3 separate regions of the Homo sapiens genome follow, and all the other regions are linked to region 3. The links come from fine-mapping of genetic effects on gene expression. A gene starts in region 3. Each other region holds a variant in brackets. All regions are shown on one strand. Distances are from middle to middle. Region 1 has its middle 44 kb from the start of LMTK2. Region 2 has its middle 26 kb from the start of LMTK2. Region 3 holds the start of TECPR1 (tectonin beta-propeller repeat containing 1).

Region 1 (4,239 bases), 190 kb after region 3:
GATCCACCCTCCTTGGCCTCTCAAAGTGCTGGGATTACAGGGATGAGCCACCATGCCCAGCCTCTCTGTTGCACTTCTTAACCCCTGACTTTGATCATTCTTGGTTTTGGTCTGTCTCCCTTCATTAGAACATAAGTTCTGGAGGCATAGGGGATTTTTCCTATGTTGATTATCTTGAAACTCAAGAGCCTGGAACAGTGCCTGGCACATAGTAGGCACACAATAAATAATTTTCAACTGCCACTGGCCTTTTTTCTGAGATGGGGGGTCTTGTTCTATTGCCCAGGCTGGTATGCAGTGGCACAATCATGGCTCACTGCAGCCTCCAACTTCTGGGCTCAAGTGATCCTCCCACCTCAGCCTCCTGAGCAGCTGGGACAACAGACGTGAGCCACCACACCTGGCTATATATTTTTTTCAACTCAATTTTAAATGGCTACAGTGATTGGTTTAGAAACAGACATGTAATCTACCAGTCATGACGGCTCATGCCTGTAATCTCAGGACTTTGGGAGGCCAAGGCAGGAGGATTGCTTGAGCCCAGGAGTTTGAAACCAGCCTGGACAACATAGTGAGACCCTGTCTCTACAACAAAATTTTTTTAAAAAATTAGCTGAGTGTGGTGGTGCATGCCTGTAGACCCAGCTGCTCAGGAGGCTGAGGCAGGAGGATCGCTTGAGCCTAGGAGTTCGAGGCTGCACTGAGCTATGATTGCACCATTGCATTCCAGCCTGGGTGACAGAGCAAGACCCATCTCTAAAAAAAAAAACAAAACAAAAAACGAAAACAATGTATTTTGTTGTTGTTGTTGTTGTTGTTGTTGTTGTTTTTAAGATGAAATCTCGCTCTGTCACCCAGGCTGGAGTGCAGTGGTGTAATCTCGGCTCACTAAAACCTCTGCCTCGTGGGTTCAAGCGATTCTCCTGCCTCAGCCTCCTGAGTAGCTGGGACTACAGGTGCACACCACCATGCCCAGCTGATATTTGTATTTTTAGTAGAGATGGGGTTTCATCCTGTTGGCTAGGATGGTCTTGATCTCTTGACCTCGTGATCCACCCCCCTCGGCCTCCCAAAGTGCTGGGATTACAGGCGTGAGCCACTGCGCCCAGCCCAAAAACGATGTTTTTAAAGAAAAGAAACAGATATGTAATCCACTTTGAGCTAGAGAGACAAAATGAGGCTTTGACATGGGAGAAAGGGGTCCTTTCTCTTGCCCTTCACTTGCCCTGGAAGCTTGCAGGCTAGAACTGTCACCACTGTCACATATCATAAAGGGAAAGCCTGCTTGAGAGTAGCCAGCAGAGGAAAGCCAGAGAGATAAAGCGAGGTCAGGGGTTGGTGACATCATTTGGCCTCTGTATGCAGCCATACCTGAAATAAACATCCAGTGGTGTGCTGGTAAATGTTTAACAATCAGCTCTGGGGTGAGGGGTAAGAGAGCCCTGATTCATAGCATCTGCCAATTTCCATAGTGTAAATATTCTCACCAGGCTGATTGAACTCAGGCTTGGGAGAGATTGCACACAGTCAGTAAGCTGCTCCATCATATCACTGCCCTGACTTCGAGTTCAGTGAATAACCCAAGATATGCCCTTCTTGCTTAAGTCAGCTTGTGTTCGGCTTTCGGTCACCCAAAGATCCCTGATACAGGTGCTGATAAAATAACAAGCCAAGGCTGGGCTTAGTGGCTCACGTCTGTAATCCCAGCACTTTGGGAGGCTGAGGCAGGCAGGTCACTTGAATTGAGGAGTACAAGACTAATTTGGCCAACATGGTGAAACCCTGTCTCTACTAAATACA[G/C]AAAAATTAGCCGGGGGTGGTGGCAGACGCCTGTAATCCCAGCTATTCAGGAGGCTGAGGAAGGAGAATCGCTTGAACCCTGGAGGCAGAGGTTGTAGTGAGCTGAGATCACACCACTGCACTCCAGCCTGGGTGACAGAGTGAGACTCTGTCTCCAAAAAATATATAAATAAATAAATAACAAATAAATAACAGCACAAACAAATGTGAAATTGCCCTTGTGACAGGCACAAAGAAGAAAGGCCCGTGAGATAGCTTGCTTGGCAGTGCTTACAAAGCCTTATGGAGGGAGGCATAGGAGGGAGGACCAGCCTGGGCAACAAAGTGAGACCCCGTCTCCATAAAAAATTAAAAAAAAAAAATAGCCAGGCATGATGGTGTGCACCTGTAGTTCCAGCTACTTGGGAGGCTGAGGCAGGAGGATTGCTTGAGCTCAGAAGGCCAAGGCTGCAACGAGCTATGATTGAGCCACTGCACTCCAGAGCGAGACCCTGTCTCAAAAAAATTGACAATGAGATATCACTTCATACCTGTCCGAATGGCTATTTGAAAAAAGATGAAAGATTAAGTGTTGGTGAGGATGTGGAGAAAAGGGACATTCGCACACTGTTGGTGGGAATGTAAATCAGTACAGCCATCATGGGAACCACTGTGGAAAACAGTATGGAGATTCCTCAAAAAATTTAAAAATTTAGCATATGACCTAGCATATGATCTAGCAATTCCACTACTGGGCATATAGCCAAAAGAAGTAGAATCAGGCTGGGGCGTGGTGGCTCACGCCTGTAATCCTAGCACTTTGGGAGACCTGAGGTCAGCAGTTCAAGACCAGCCTGGCCAACATGGTCAAACGCTGTCTCTACTAAAAATATAAAAGTTAGCCAGGTGTGGTGGCACGTGCCTGTAATCCCAGCTACGCAGGAGGCTGAGGCAGGAGAACTGCTTGAACCCAGGAGACAGAAGTTGTGGTGAGCTGAGATCGTGCCACTGCACTGTAGCCTGGATGACAGAGTGAGACTCTGTCTCAAAAAAAAAAAAAGTAGAATCAGTACATCAAAGAGATATCTGCACACTCATGTTAATGACGTCATTATCTTTTAAATTTTTTTTTCCTTTTTTTTTTTTTGAGACGGAGACTCGCTCTGTCACACAGGCTGGAGTTCAGTGGCGCAATCTCAGCTCACTGCAACCTCTGCCTCCCGGGTTCAAGCAATTCTCCTGCCTCAGCCTCTCGAGTAGCTGGGACTACAGGCGCCCGCCACCATGCCTGGCTAATTTTTTGTATTTTTAGTAGAGAGGGGGTTTCACCATGTTAGCCAGGATGGTCTCGATCTCCTGACGTCATGATCCGCCCGCCTCGGCCTCCCAAAGTGCTGGGATTACAGGCATGAGCCACCACGCCAGGCCAAATTTTTCCTTTTTTAAGTCTTTTGCACTCCTGATTGACAGCATTATTCACAATCGCCAAGATGTGAAATCAACCTAAGTGTCCATCACTGGATGAATGGATAAAGGAAACGTGGAATACTATTCAGCCACAAAAGGAGGAAATCCTATCATTTGCAACAACATGGGTGAACCTGGAGGAAATTATGTTAACTGAAATAAGCCAGGCACAGAAAGACAAATACTGTGTGATCTCACTTACATGGGGCATCTGAAAAAGTCCATTTCAGAGAAGTACAGAGTAGAATGGCCTGTTATTCCATCGTCTGCTCTGTGATATGGCAGAGCCCAGGTTACCAGGGGGCTTGGGGTAGTGATAGGGGAGGAAGTTTGGGAGATGTTGGTCAAAGTTTACAAAATTTCAGTTAGATAAGAGAAATAAGCTCAAGAGATTGGTTGTACAACATGGTGACCAATATATTGGCTGGGCAAGGTAGCTCATGCCTGTAATCCCAGTGCTGTGAGAGGCTGAGGCCAGAGGATTGCTTGAGCCCGGGAGTTCAAGACCAGCCAGGGCAAAATAACGAGACCCCATCTCTACAAAAAGTTTAAAAATCAGCCAGGCGTGGTGGTGCGCACCTGTAGTCTCAGCTACTCGGGAGGCTGAGGAGAGAGGACCACTTGAGCCCAGGAGTCTGAGGCTGAAGTGAGCTGTGATTGTGCCATTGCACTCCAGCCTGGGTGAGAGAGAGATACCCTGCCTCAAAAAATAAAAATAAAATAACAATATGTTGTTTTCTTGAAAAATGCTAAAACAGTAGATTTTAAGTGTTTCCACTGCAAAAATTACAAATGTGAGGTGATGCGTATGCCTGTTGGTTGGCTTGGTTTGGCCATTCTGCAATGAATATGTGTTTCAGAACATCATGTTGTAAACAATAAACATATACAAGTTTAGCTGTCAGTTAAAAAATAAGTAATAACAAATGCAGAAAAAACTGACTGGGTGCAGTGGCTCATGCCTGTAATCTCAACCCTTTGGGAGACCAAGGC
Region 2 (4,239 bases), 170 kb after region 3:
AATGGGACCAGGTGTGGAGGCTCACATCCATAATCCCAGCACTTTGGGAGGCTGAGGTAGGAGGATCACTTGAGCCCAGAAGTTTGAGACTGACCTGGACAATATAGAAAGACCTATCTCTACAAAAAATTTAAAAATTAACCAGTCATGGTGGTGTGCACCTGTAGTCCCAGCTACTCGGGAGGCTGAGATGGGAGGATTGCTTGAGCCCAGGAGGTTGAGGCTGCAGTGAACCCTGATCATACCACCGCACTCCAGCCTGGGTGACAGAGTGAGACTGTCTCAAAAAAAAAAAAAAAAAAAAAAAAGAGAAAAGAAAATAAAAAGAAAAAAGGGGGGAGGCCTCAGGCTTTTTTTTTTTGTTTGCTATTTTATTATTTTTTATTATACATATTTAAGGTGTACAACATGACGTTTTGATATACATATAATCAGTCAAATGGTTACTATATCCAAGTAAATGAACGTATTCATCATTTTACATAGTTACCCATTTGTGTGTTTGGCAAGAGCAACCTAAAATCTATTCTTTTAGCAAAAATCCCAAATACAATATGATATTGTGAACTACAGTTCTTATGGTGTACATTTGATCTCTGTCTGGTGGGAGAACGGGTAGTGAATGGTGACTCTCTGGAGAGGCTGTCCATGGGAGCCAGAGACCTGGCCAGAGAGCTGGGGTCCGGCAGTGTCAGCTGCTATGTCCCCAGAAAGGCCTGATTGTGCAGTACAGGCCCTGAGCACAGAAACTCCAATGCAGGCCGGGCATGGTGGCCCACGCCTGTAATCCCAGCACTTTGGGAGGCTGAGGTGGGCGGATCACGGGGTCAGGAGATCGAGACCATCCTGGCTAACACGGTGAAACCCCATCTCTACTAAAAATACAAAAAATTAGCCGGGCGTGGTGGCGGGCGCCTGTAGTCCCAGCTATTCGGGAGGCTGAGGCAGGAGAATGGCGTGAACCCGGGAGGCGGAGGTTGCAGTGAGCCAAGACCGTGCCACTGCACTCCAGCCTGGGTGACACAGTGAGACTCTGTCTCGAAAAAAAAAAAAAAAAGAAACTCCAATGCAGCCATGAGGTCAAGACCATGTGAAATGAGCTGGGCGTGGTAGCTCACGCCTATAATCCTAACACTTTGGGAGGCCGACATGTGCAGATCACTTGAGGTCAGGGGTTTGAGACCAGCCTGGCCAACTTAGTGAAACCCCATCTCTGCTAAAAATACAAAAATTAGCCAGGCATGGTGGCGCGTGCCTGTAATCCCAGCTACTCTGGAGGCTGAGGCAGGAGAATCACTTGAACCCAGGAGGCAGAGGTTGCAGTGAGCTGAGATTGTGCCAAAACACCCCAGCCTGGGTGACGGAGAGAGACTCTGTTTCAAAATATATATTCATATATATATTTATATATATATGAATATATATATTCATATATATATTTATATATATATTTATATATATTCATATATATATTTATATATATATTCATATATATTTAACGTAAAATGTACATTTCAGAGAGGCATAAATAGCAGAGAATCACATCTTGGTGAGGTTGGACAAGGTTGGAAAACATAAGGAAGGTGAGAGTATTCCAGCCAGAGGACAGAGGTCAAAGGCTGTAAAAAGCAGGAAAGCAGGAACCATGCAAATGTGACCCAACCAGGAGTGACC[G/A]TGTGAACAAGACAAAATGCCCATGTGACCGTATTAGTAAAAGGAGGTCGTGTGATCTCATACTCATATGCATATTTATACTCACGCATATTCATAAACTGGAAGGAAATCACCAAAACATTAGAATACTGACGGTGATGGTCTCTAAATGATAGCACCGTGGATGTTTCTTCTTTTCTTTTTTTCAAAGGTTCTCATTTTTTTGTAATGAACCTCAATTATTTAATAGGCAAAAGGGAGGACTGTTGTTTGCGTGTCTGTTTTTATGTTTACGTTGGCAGATGTTCTTTTTTTTTCTTCTTTTTTTGAGCAGAGTTTTGCTATTGTTGCGAAAAGCGAAGTCCAGCCAGGCTGGAGTGCAATGGCACGATCTCAGCTCACCACAATCTCCGCCTTCCAGGTTCAAGCAATTCTCCTGCCTCAGCCTCCTGAGTAGCTGGGATTACAGGCATGCGCCACCACCATGCGACCGGCTAATTTTGTATTTTTTTTAGTAGAGATAGGGTTTCTCCATGTTGGTCAGGCTGGTCTTGAACTTCCAACCTCAGGTGATCCGCCCGTCTCGGCCTCCCAAAGTGCTGGGATTACAGGTGTGAGCCACCGCGCTTGGCCTACGTTGGCAGATTTTCCAGGTGAGAATTTCAACTCAGAGCAATATCATGTCAAGGACAGAGTCTTTGTCACAGGGATGGCTTCACAGTTAGAAAATCATTAGTGGGATGCGGTGGCTTACACCTGTAATCTCAGCACTTTGGGAGGCTGAGGTGGGAGGATGGCTTGAGCTCAGGAGGTCAAGGCTGCAGTGAGCTGTGATCACGCCACTGCAGTCCAGCCTGGGCAACAGAGGGAGACCCTGTCTCATGCATGCAAAAAAGGAAATCATTAAGAGTTTTCCAAAACATGCTCTACATAATGAAAAATATTCCAGATGGCACTAGGCAATAATATTCATTTCTAAACATTTATATTCATGGAGCTTAGACACTGCTGCTCCTAGTTGAGCCAGTCCATGTTTTCCTTCACACCTTGGGCACTGGTTGCTTAATTATTCACTGTTATCCTCACCAACTCACTGAATCTGCTGCCTGCTGGGAGGTGTTAAAAAAAAGCCCTTTTTTAGAGAGATAATTGAATCGGCTGAGGGAAGTGGAGTGTTTTATTTTTAGTGGGGATGGTTGGCTACATTCCATGTATTCTTTTTTAAAATCTTACTTGAAGGATTGTTGCTGTCTGGTGATGGCATATAGCTTTTCCATTTTGCTATTCTGCCTTGTTTCTGAGCAAGGTATAGACACACGGAGATAGAATTCTATTTGTCGCATCTTTATTCCAATCTGGGTGTGCACTTCTGTGTTCAGAAGGCAGCTGAGGTCATTAGACAGCAAAAACTCCTATGCAATTTTGGACTAGGTAAGAGGAGTTGCACCTTTCCACAAGTCAGGTTTGCTGGCTCAGGGGAGCCATGTCTCCAGGCCATCAGCTCATGCAGGTTAGGGAGTCAGGTGGCTCTTTCCTAGGAGAACAGGTGCAGAAAGGGTCGGCTAGTTTTTTCCTCTGTATTGATTACAATTATCAACGAATCGACTGAATTGATGAGATATTTTGGCACTATGTTACTTGCCTTTAGTCCTGCTAATAGGACCCAGCAGAGAGCTTTTGAAGACACTGAGCTCAGAGCGAGCAGACTTTAAAAATTGTTATTATGGTAAAATATGCATAACATACAATTTACCATTTTAACCATTTTTTTATTAAATTTTTTTTCTCTTTTTTTTTTGAGATGGAGTTTCACTCTTGTTGCCTAGGCTGGAGTGCAATGATGCGATCTCAGCTCACTGCAACGTCTGCCTCCCAGGTTCAAGTGATTCTCCTGCCTCAGCCTCCTGTGTAGCTGGGATTACAGGTATGTGCCACCACGCCCGGCTAATTTTGTATTTTTAGTAGAGACGGGGTTTCTCCATGTTGGCCAGGCTGGTCTTGAACTCTCGACCTCAGGTGATTCACCCCCCCTTGGCCTCCCAAAGTGCTGGGATTACAGACATGAGCTACCGTGCCCGGCCTTTTTTTTTTTTTTTTGAGATGGTTTCTTACTCTATCACCAGGCTGGAGTGCAGTGGTGTGATCTCGGCTCACTGCAACCTCCACCTCCAGAGTTCAAGCAATTCTCCTGCCTCAGCCTCCCGAGTAGCTGGGATTACAGGCACGCGCCACCACACCCGGCTAATTTTTGTATGCTTAGTAGAGACGGGGTTTCACCATGTTGGCCAGGCTGGTCTCGAACTCTTGACCTCGTGATCTGCCCACCTCAGCCTCCCAAAGTGCTAGGATTACAGGCATAAGCCACGTGCCCAACCCCAAAATTTTTCTTCAAGAGATGGAGTCCCGCTATGTTGTCCAGGCTGGTCTCAAACTCCTGGGCTCAAGCAATCCTCCCATCTAGGTTTCCCAAAATACTGGGATTACAGGTGTGAGCCACCGTGCCTGGCCCATTTCAATAATATTAAGTGTACAGTTTAGTGGCATTAAGCATATTCACATGATCGTGCAACCACCACCACCATCTAG
Region 3 (4,239 bases):
AGTGAGACTCCCTCTCAAAAAAAAAAAAAAAAAAAAAGAACTCGGGATAGGGGGACATGGGTCCCCAAGCCCCTGAATTCAGGAAAACTATATTGAACTTTGTCACCACACATGAAAACTGCAAGGGGCCACAGAAAGCTCCTAATTCAATGCCTCTTTTTCATTTTTTTTCAATGCCTCTTTTAATGTGGAAACTAAAGCTAAAGAGGAGATAAATGGCTACAGAGTGTCACAGGCAGGACAGAACCCAGGGCTCCCTACCTCTAGACTGTTTCTCCAGCAGTCTAGCGACCACTCATCCTCCTTTTTTTTTTTTTTTTTTTTTTTTGAGACAGAGTTTTGCTCTGTTGCCCAGGCTGGAGTGTAGTGGCACAATCTCAGCTCACTGCAAGCTCCGCCTCCTGGGTTCACCTCATTATCCTGCCTCAGCCTCCCGAGTAGCTGGGACTACAGGCGCCCGCCACCACGCCCGGCTAATTTTTTGTGTTTTTAGTAGAGACGGTGTTTCACCATGTTAGCCAGGATGGTCTCATCTCCTGACCTCATGATCCACCCGCCTCGGCCTCCCAAAGGGCTGGGATTACAGGCGTGAACCACTGCGCCCGGCCCACTCATCGTCCTTCTGCTAATAGCACCCTGATCTTCCTCTGAGGAGCCACCCCCTGTGCCTGGCTGAGCCCTTATGCTTGAGGGGGGCTCTGCCCACATCTCCAGACCAAGTCCACAAATGCCAGTCCCTCAGGCCCAAGCTAAAGTCAGGGTCAGACACAGGACTCCACAGAGCCATCCGGGGTGAACAAGAGGCTTCTGGGGGCGTTTTCTTCCACTGGAGCTGGCCTGTGTGGGGCTTCCCCAAACATGAAGGCCCAGGAAAAGCCTGTGTGCAACCCCAGAAATGAGACAGAACTAGAGGGGGAGCAGGAATAGGTCCCTAGGTCCAACCAGGTGACATTGGTTTAGCTCAATGTCGGGTAGTATCTAGCCTTCCATCAGATGCCCTTTTTTTTCTTTTTTGAGAAGGAGTTTTGCTCTTGTCGCCCAGGCTGTAGTGCGGTGGCACAGTGGCACGATCTCAGCTCACTGCAACCTCCACCTCCCCAGTTCAAGCGATTTTCCTGCCTCAGTCTCCCGAGTAGCTGAGATTACAGGCATGCGCCACCACCCCTGGCTAATTTTGCATTTTTACTAGAGACGGGGTTTCACCATCTTGGCCAGGCTGGTCTCAAACCCCTGACCTCAAGTGATCCGCCCGCCTTGGCCTCCCAAAGTGCTGGGATTACAGGTATGAACCGCCGCACCTGGCCGACATCTTTCTTTTTTCTCCTTTCTCCATCCTAACCTTGCCAGTTTTCTGCCAGGCGGGATACAGTGTTTTCAAATCCCAGTTCCATCGCTTACAACGTGAGTCGCTCCATCTCTGAGCCCGTGTTCGCATTTGTAAAATGGGAATGACGCCGCCAGCTCTTTGGGTTGCTGGGAGGATGAAATGAGAAGACCCAAGTAAAGCACTTACGTCAGTGCCCGCCACCCCGGGAGGACTCGCATATTACTATTAATATATTAGGCCAGCTTACACTGGGTTTTGTCACTGACAATAGAGTTTGAGCAATCCAGGGCCTGTTACTGACACCACACCATGCTATAGTCACAAAATCACATATGCTTCCAGGACTCCTCCTCGAAAGAGTAAAGCTTTAAGTGTAGTGTGTGCTCAAGGGCTACGTTTCAGTTCGATGGATACCAGGAAGACACCTGTTCCCTGCGTCCTCTCCACGCCCCAGGCCGGGCGCCCACACCCTGCTCCTCCTGACGCCGCACAGCCACGCACCCAGGTACCCTCTCCGCCACCCCTTCTCCTCGCCTGCAGGCGGTGTCCACACCGCCCTCTCCGCTCCTGCAGACCGGGTCCTGGAGGGCGGCCGGGCGGTCCACGGGCCGGTGTCGCGCCGCCAGAGAGAACGCGGCAACTCGCTTCAGCCGACTCTGGACTCCTGACCTGGCGCGACCCCGGAAGTGGGCGGGCGCGCGACCTCGAAGCCAGCACCGACGCGGCGCACCGCAGCCAATCGCACGTCCCAGGTCGCAGCGTCCTGGCGAGGCTGGCCAATGGGCACGGGGCCTGATGCCGCTTCCGGCCCACCCTCTTGCCCGGTCCCCGGGAGGGCCGGTCCGCTCCTCCCGGACGCCGAGGACCTACCACCGCGACTTCGCCCCGCCCGGCGCGGGCCCAGGTGAGTGCAGAGTGGCGCCCCAGCTGCAGCGGCGGCCAGGGCCGTGGGAAAGAATGGGGCGATGAAGGGCTGGGCACGCCGCCTTCCCCACCACCCCCAGGCTGTTTGCTCGCGGGGAGGGAGGAAGGAGGGACCGCACTTGTCATCTCGCCTGCACACCTGGAAGGTGCCGCCCCCGTCCCCTGCCCTGGAACGCCCACAGGCTAGCGAAGTTGCCTGGTGCAGGTGACGCCCCCATTCCAGCCTTTGGACTGGAGCCATAGGAGAAGCGGATCGCGGGATCCTGGTTGTTTTCGAGAATCACGCAGCAAGGGGCCTGCCTATCCCTCTCCCTGGGTATTGATGGGAGCAAATCTGCTTGTCGTAAGATTAGCTTTGGCAGATGGTCAGGGCCCAGAGCTCCGACATATGCTACTGGTGGCAGTGCAGGGGCCCCACCTGTCACCCAAGTGCACAGCACTGGGCTGAACGCCAGGCTGACTCAGGACACCTCCTGCCCGGTGGGGCTGGGCGGACCCTATTCTTCAGGAAAGAATCAACTACCATGCAAGTTCTGCTGCTTTTTCCCACCTTTTAGGACCCTGATGTCGCTTTTGAACAGCCCCTGCACCTGGCAGCCAGCGAGCTACTGTAGTAGGCATTGCCGACTGTTTGCATACCGGATGGGAGTGACAGTGTAATAGAAAAACAAGCAAGAAACCTTTTAGGTAGGACTCCTAAGGCTCAGAGGAAGTAAGTGCTTGCGGAGCGTTCTTTGTACTGTGTCTTTTCCTCTACCACATCTCTGTCCCCGCCTCTCTTGGGTGCTTTTTTTGGTCTCTGAAAGGATCTGTGAATAAACTGAGACAGAAAGGCAGATGGCTTTGAGGGTGGCGAGCAGACCTTCTTCGTGGAAAGACTGAAGGTTCAACTCAAATTCATCTTGTAGAAATTCTTGGTGAATTCGAGGCTGCTGATTTGGAAGATTTTCCTCCATCCCTCTAACCCTACAAAACAAACAAGTCCCAGGATCCCTGAATCATGGGGCTTCATGTTCCAACCCCCCTTTCAAGAGTCCTCTGACCCAGTGACCCTGTGTAAGTTGCCTGATCAGCTCACAGCCAGAAAGTGGCCCATGAGGAGCTAGGGGGAGCCTCTTGGCAGAGGCAGAAAGAAAGTGTGGCTGACCAAGGATGGTTACCGGATGTCAACTGTAGCTAGGAAGTGACGACAGGTGCCTGGGTCTCTACTCTGAAGGGAGTTTGTAAATACAGCAACCCCCCACCCCTCCCTTTCACTGTAGCAGAGTCTTCTCCCATTAACTGCCCAGAAGATTCAATGATGTCTATGAGGAAATTAGTGCTTAGTCATTTATTTGAAGGAAAGTCAAAATCTCCTTTCATTGAGCTCAACCTGCAGACTGAGTCTAGCTAAACTGCTTGCTTATCCAGTGAATTCTGAGCTATCTTTGTTTTGTTGTTGTTGTTGTTGTTGTTTGTTTTCCTTTTTGAGACAGGGTCTCGCTCTGCTGCCCAGGCTGGAGTGCAGTGGCACAATCATAGCTCACTGTAGCCTCAAACTCCTGGGCTCAAGTGATCCTCCTGCCTCAGCCTCCCAAGTAGCTAGGATCACAGGCATGTGCCACCACACCTGGCTAATTTTTTTTTTAACTTTTTATTTTTACAGAGATGGGGTCTCCCTGTGTTGCTTAGGCTGGTTTTGAACTCCTCGGCTCAAGCGATCCTCCCACCTCAGCCCCGGAAAGGGCTGGGATTACAGGCATGAGCTACTGCACCTGGCCTCTGAGCTATCTTTGAAGGCTAACTTATATTTAACACTATAGAAAGTGACAATTAAAAAAAAAAACCTTCGTCTTCCCCTAGCATTTTATTGAGGATTTTCCCACATACAGCCAAGTTGAAAGAATTATACAGTCAGCATCCCCATCCCCACCAACTAGATTCTACTATTGACACTTTACTTGCTTTATCACATATCTGTCCACCAATTATGACCTTACTTTTCAAGT

What was found. PIP is the estimated chance that this variant, and not a neighbour inherited with it, causes the effect. A credible set is the group of variants that fine-mapping cannot tell apart.
Region 1: its variant is the best candidate, but not a certain one, in a credible set for the expression of TECPR1 in whole blood (INTERVAL, PIP 0.84).
Region 2: its variant is the best candidate, but not a certain one, in a credible set for the expression of TECPR1 in whole blood (TOPMed, PIP 0.55).

What each region holds. Positions count from the first base shown.
Region 1 is chr7:98,060,398-98,064,636 of GRCh38, reverse strand. No RefSeq gene overlaps it. Among named protein-coding and RNA genes, the nearest start is that of LMTK2, 44 kb to the left of the region's middle. The variant G/C (reference allele first, on the strand shown) is at 1,801.
Region 2 is chr7:98,078,956-98,083,194 of GRCh38, reverse strand. No RefSeq gene overlaps it. Among named protein-coding and RNA genes, the nearest start is that of LMTK2, 26 kb to the left of the region's middle. The variant G/A (reference allele first, on the strand shown) is at 1,675.
Region 3 is chr7:98,250,118-98,254,356 of GRCh38, reverse strand. TECPR1 (tectonin beta-propeller repeat containing 1) reads left to right here and starts at 2,125. Exons shown (of 26, transcript NM_015395.3): 1 at 2,125-2,231; 2 at 2,809-2,963. It overlaps LOC124901706 (a long non-coding RNA gene), which reads right to left and starts at 1,998. Exons shown (of 2, transcript XR_007060448.1): 1 at 1,829-1,998; 2 at 1-1,473. RefSeq lists silencers at 1,839-1,938, 2,029-2,418 and an enhancer at 1,735-2,478.